2 separate regions of the Homo sapiens genome follow, and region 2 is linked to region 1. The links come from fine-mapping of genetic effects on gene expression. A gene starts in region 1. The other region holds a variant in brackets. All regions are shown on one strand. Distances are between the middles of the regions.

Region 1 (2,919 bases):
GACCCTAAGCCAACCACTCAGAAACCACTCTTACATTTTGCTCCAGCCCCTCAACTTCAATGCCTACCTGCAAGGGAAGAAAACCTGGCAAAGAAATTGTAAGAGAGATTTATGCCTTCAGTCTCCCTGGTTTCATTGCACCAATTTCATCCAATCCCTAGGTTCTGTTTCCCTGTGCTTTTTCTACCTACTTCCCAGGAGACTTTCTTATTCTCTAGGAAAGGTGGTTCGAGCTGGGGTTAAAGATGGAAAAGAACCTTTCTCAAAAGGATAGTCTTGCTTTGTGTTGTGTAATGTCAGCTTCATGTGAGGAACACTGGCACCTAACAGGCTGGAAGAAGACAAAGACAGCAGCATTGAAAGGGACGGTGCATCACAAAAAGTGCCAGGCAAGGTGATGTCTGAGAGCAACAAAGACTCTCAAGGCAATATTAAATGCATTTCTAGAAAAGAAAAAAAAACCGAGGGGAAAGTTTCCATTTATTAGGAAAAGATGATCAACTAACATAATGTTTTCCACACACTCATACTGCCCTCTCATTCCCTACCCACTCCCACTAAGCTGTGTGTGGTTGGGTTTGAGTGTGCAAATCAAGTATGTTTGTGTACACGTAGGCAGTCCTTTGATGTCTTGAAAATGACCAGGTGTAGGTGAAATGTTTTATACTTACTTTTCCATCACCATAAAGATTCTAGGAAGCACTTGTCTTCATTTATCCCGGGGAAGGTGGAAGATCTCGGTAAAGCCTTGGAGTCTTATGAGGTGTTGGCAGGATGCGGTTGATACTCCCTGTATTTTAATTCGTGTTTTCTTGGGAGGAGAGAGGGCATGGAGTGTAGGTGGAAGGCCCAGAAAGAGCCAAACGATCTAGTCGTTTTTCTAAAGTTCTCAGTAACAACCAGTTGTGACGTCTTAAGAGAGAAAGAAGGCCTTTTACAGATGGACAGAACATGCTGCTTCTCGGCCCCGGCCACAGTTGGGAGAAGGTGGCTGGTAAGTACATGATGCAGTTGAGTTGATTTACATTACAAGTTGCAAATCAGGGTCTGTGCATTGAGTTTCCCTCCGGTTGTGAAAGGGGTCTAAGCGCTTTGCTGGGGCCTGGCAGGCCCCTCCCTGGGCTGCAAGGATCCGCCCCTCTATTCCCCAGATAAATTCCTAGTGTCCACCAAATTCCTCAGCGCTCGCTCACCCTCCTCTACGGCCACGACTCTGGGAGTGGGGAAACAGAGAGCCGGTTCCTCTGCTGCAGAAGTCCTCGGGGTTCCTTCTCACAACTCTGCGAAGGGGAAAGGGTTGTGAGACCCAACCAGACCCCAACTCCAGCTCCCAGCAGGAGGTGGCTGCGCCACACTCGGGAGGCCTCTTGGTTTCAGGGTCTCTCTGTCTCTCTCTCACCCTCTTCCTCGCTTTCTCTGTCTCTCTGTCTCTCTCTCTCTCTCTCCCTCGTCCACTCCCCCAAACATGTCCACCGGCTCCCTCAGCGATGTGGAGGACCTTCAAGAGGTGGAGATGTTGGAATGTGACGGGTTGAAAATGGATTCGAACAAGGAATTTGTGACTTCCAACGAGAGCACCGAGGAGAGCTCCAACTGCGAGAATGGGTCTCCCCAGAAGGGCCGCGGCGGCCTGGGCAAGAGGAGGAAGGCGCCCACCAAGAAGAGCCCCCTGAGCGGGGTCAGCCAGGAGGGGAAGCAGGTCCAGCGCAACGCCGCCAACGCGCGAGAGCGGGCCCGCATGCGAGTGCTGAGCAAGGCCTTCTCCAGACTCAAGACCACCCTGCCCTGGGTGCCCCCCGACACCAAGCTCTCCAAGCTGGACACGCTCAGGCTGGCGTCCAGCTACATCGCCCACTTGAGGCAGATCCTGGCTAACGACAAATACGAGAACGGGTACATTCACCCGGTCAACCTGGTGAGTGCTCCCGGGGCTGCAGCTGCAGTCCAGGCGCGCCCGCACTCCCGCCTGCGGTGGGCGCGAGTGCGCGCGGGGCTGGGAGTGGGGGTGTGGGCGCGGCGGTGACTTACACATCTCGACCACCGCGGGCCTAGAGCCTCCAGGGACCGGAGGCGGGCGGTCTAGACACGGCCCTCGCTCTCTGCCCTACCAGCCCCCGGAGCGGGAGTGATTTATGCGAGGGTTTGACGTGGCAGCCCAATTAAAAGTTTGCAAGTGTGTTGAGCTGGCACAGAGGAGGGATCCCCCGCTCCCGCTCCATCGCCATCCTCCCTGGGGTGCAGTGGCTGCTGCGGAACTGAGAACACTGACAAGACGCTGCGAGCGGACAGGCATTTTGTTAATCCTTTTTTCTTCTTTTAGCAGAGAGTGGAACTTGATTTTCCTTTCCTTGTAAATAAAAACACCCAACTCCGTTTCTTTCACAAGCATATTTAGGACCATTGGATAAGGACACATCTATGCCCCCCAAATTGTCCACGTAAGCCCTTAACCGCTTAAATATTCTGTGCTTCTCCTATAAGTGGATTAATATTTTTAAATCCCAGAAGTTCTAGTAATGATCAGCAAAATCAGTAAATCCTCACTAGTATGAGTGTAATAAATACTAAAATAGGTCACTCTCACCCAAGATTTAAGAAATGTTACCTTTTATCTTAAAAAGTAATGCCCATTGAGCCTAATTTTTTAACACAAAAAACTGATAATCATTGAGTCTACTTTTTTCTCAAATGTATTTTACTGTTTAAGAAATATATCTTAATTTTTTTCATTTGATTTTATTTTAAAACTTCTAAGATCTAAAGAAAAACAATAACAACAACTTACTAGGATCTCTGTTTGTATATGATAAGAATGAGAGATTTTTCCTTTTAAAAGGCAAGTCTTATCAGCTAGCACTAGAGCAGTAGTGAGAGGGGTCTGAATTGTCTTCTCACCGAATTGGTTTCTGGAATTGCTGG
Region 2 (2,919 bases), 200 kb before region 1:
AAAATACTCCAGACATTCCCTTTAAAGCCCAGAAAGTCTATACTCTTGGGCTAAGGGAAATGGAAATAGAGTACTTCTCACTATTATTAAAACAAACAAACAAACAAAAAACAAAATAACCTTGTGTCAGTTCAGTACAAGACCAATTAAGTTTACCTATTTCTCTTCTAATTGGCTATCTGCCAGAAGCAAAAATTTGTCCTCCATGTAGAAAATCAGCTACATCAGGAGCCTCACGTTATCTTTAAATCTTTTCATATACAGTGTCTGACATCCAGTAAAAATTATCAATCATACCAGACACAGAATCAAATCACTGAAAACAAGGAGAAAAACTTGGGATAATAGAAATAATAGAATAATAGAAATAGATGCATAATTGATAAAATATTAGTTATCAGACACAGACTTTAAAATAATGTGATTAACCTGTTCAAGAAAAATACATGACACAATAGAGTTTTTCAGCCAAGAAATAGAATAAAGAAAAAATCAGATAGAAATTCTACTTGGAAAAATAGATTAGCCAAAATAAAGAACTCAATGGATTGATTAAACAGAGGACTGAACACTGCTAAAAAGAGAATTAATGAACTGAAACATATATAGGCAATTATTCTTGCATAAAAGCCCACTTTTTCTAATGTTATATATCAACTTTCTTTTGGTTAATATTTGTGTATACAGCTTTTTTATTAATTTTTTTCTCTTTTAAATTTGCTTTCAACATTTCTACAGCCTTACATTTAAAATGCATCTCATGTATGTCATAAATGTCTGGCTTAAAAAAAAAACTGACAAATCTTTTAATCACAGTATTTAGACTGCTTACATTTAATTAAAACTCTCATATATTTTTGTTTAAATTGACTATCCTACTATTTACTTTCTTTTTGTTCTGATATGGTTTGGCTGTGTCCACATCCAAATTTCACCTTGAATTGTAATAATCCCCACATGTCAAGGGCAGGGCCAAGTGGAGATAATTGAATCATGGGGAGGCTTCCCCCAAACTGTTCGAGTGGTAGTAAATAAGTCCCATGAGATCTGATGGTTTTATAAATGGGAGTTCCCCTGAACAAGCTTTCTTGCCTACTGGCATGTAAGACGTGACTTTGCTCCTTATTCACCTTCTGCCATAATTGTGAGACCTCCTCAGCTATGTGGAGCTGTAAGTCAATTAAACCTCTTTCCTTTATACATTACCCAGTCTCGCCTTTGTCTTTATTAACAGTGTGAGAACAGATTAATTTTTTTATTTTTCCTCAATTTTAGTCAAGTATTAATCAAGTACTATTCCACAGTCTCTACTACTTTATAATTCATTTTACTATTCTTTTATGGATTACCCTAAAGATTAAAACATACATTTTTGATTTATTTTTTAATATTTATTATTTTTGCTATGTCCCCAACAATGCATATACTCTTTTCCCACCTTTTGATCTATTAGTTGTCATGTATTTTACTTATTCAAATATTGTAGACCATACAATGTATTAAATAATATATTAGCATTTATTCAATTGTACTTATATAATGTATGTAATTTTCCATGTTTCTCACCCTCCCATAGTTTCAAAACTTCTTTTCTGTTCATCTAAAAATGTTTTCAACTAATTTTAATTAATGTATCATTTTAAATTATCAGTTGGATCTTCAGGTGGAAAATTTGATTAACATTTTCATGACTGAAGAAAAATATCAATAGAACTTATCACATTTAGGCTAGCTGAATTTTTAAGTGAAGCATCTTCTTGGACTTGAGTTTGTTTAATGAAACAGAGGTCTTGTATAGTTTTGCTCTTCACGTCTTTTCTAGATGAACA[C/T]GGGGGACAGAAAAGGAACCAGAGAGACCCCGTTATAGTTTTACCTTGGAGAGCAGGCTAAGATGTGGGGTAGAAAGATTATAGAAGCAAGATTTTTCAATTGGATGTCTAATTATTTTTAAGGCACTATGTTTCTCTTAGCCTGATTTACATTAAATCCAGAATACGCTGTCTTTCATTAAAACAATTTTTGGTAACACGAAGGCAGAATTATTAATAGCTTCATCATTCTTCTTATCCAATGCTGAAACATTCAAGATAGACTTTTAAATTATTGGTACTGAAAAAAACTCATTTCCTTCATCATTTAAAGTTGTTGATTTCCCAAATTAACATTTAGCCCTTTCTTTAATGAGACACACAGAAATAAAAGGGAGGTAGAGACTTTTCTCTTGCATTTGGACCAAAATGACTTTATTACTTAGTATAGTTAAAATCATCAAAGACAGCTTCCATGTTTTAACAATGGATTCTCTGCAGTTTATAGGGATATTGTTCTACAGAGGAAAAACAAACTGAGGACTTTTATAAGAGGGCATTCTTGGTTCAGGGTGCATTATAAATGATACACTATCACTTTCAGACCTGATAATAAAAAGAGACAAGGTTTTAATGTTAAAACACTAAAATTGATTTATTGATATTATACTTGTCAAGTACAGGAGGAACCAGCTTATAGTGTTGATAAGGTGAGCATAGAATTTAGTTTGGTTATAGATACAGTTTATTATGCAATGCAATTACACAACCAATTTCTTGAGGGTTCTCTGAGGGTAGACTGAGTTGAGGCAGCCCACTAGAACTGGATCCTGAGTAATCTGGAGAATAATAATGACCCCATCGTTTCAGGCAGCTAAACTTCTCTACCTTCATACCTAAGAGTTCACATAAGTGCATGATAGCCAAGCCTGCCAAACTAATTAATTACAGTCAGTTTTGAAGGGACTGAAATGAAATTTTGATCAATTTCATTCTCCAGCTCTAATCTCTTCTCCAATTTATTTTAGTCTAGATTTCTCTAAAGAGAACCCCTAATACAAAGCCTTACCCACAGATAGTTTATTTGGGGAGTGATACAAGTGAGAAAGGG

The links. PIP is the estimated chance that this variant, and not a neighbour inherited with it, causes the effect. A credible set is the group of variants that fine-mapping cannot tell apart.
Region 2: its variant is the best candidate, but not a certain one, in a credible set for the expression of TCF21 in skeletal muscle (GTEx, PIP 0.60).

The regions. Positions count from the first base shown.
Region 1 is chr6:133,887,933-133,890,851 of GRCh38, forward strand. TCF21 (transcription factor 21) reads left to right here and starts at 1,181. Exons shown (of 2, transcript NM_003206.4): 1 at 1,181-1,915. The coding sequence starts at 1,466. It overlaps TARID (TCF21 antisense RNA inducing promoter demethylation), which reads right to left and starts at 1,074. Exons shown (of 9, transcript NR_109982.1): 1 at 672-1,074. RefSeq lists enhancers at 729-1,642, 2,894-2,919.
Region 2 is chr6:133,685,738-133,688,656 of GRCh38, forward strand. All of the region lies in intron 4 of TARID (TCF21 antisense RNA inducing promoter demethylation), which reads right to left. Among named protein-coding and RNA genes, the nearest start is that of LINC01312, 130 kb to the right of the region's middle. The variant C/T (reference allele first, on the strand shown) is at 1,830.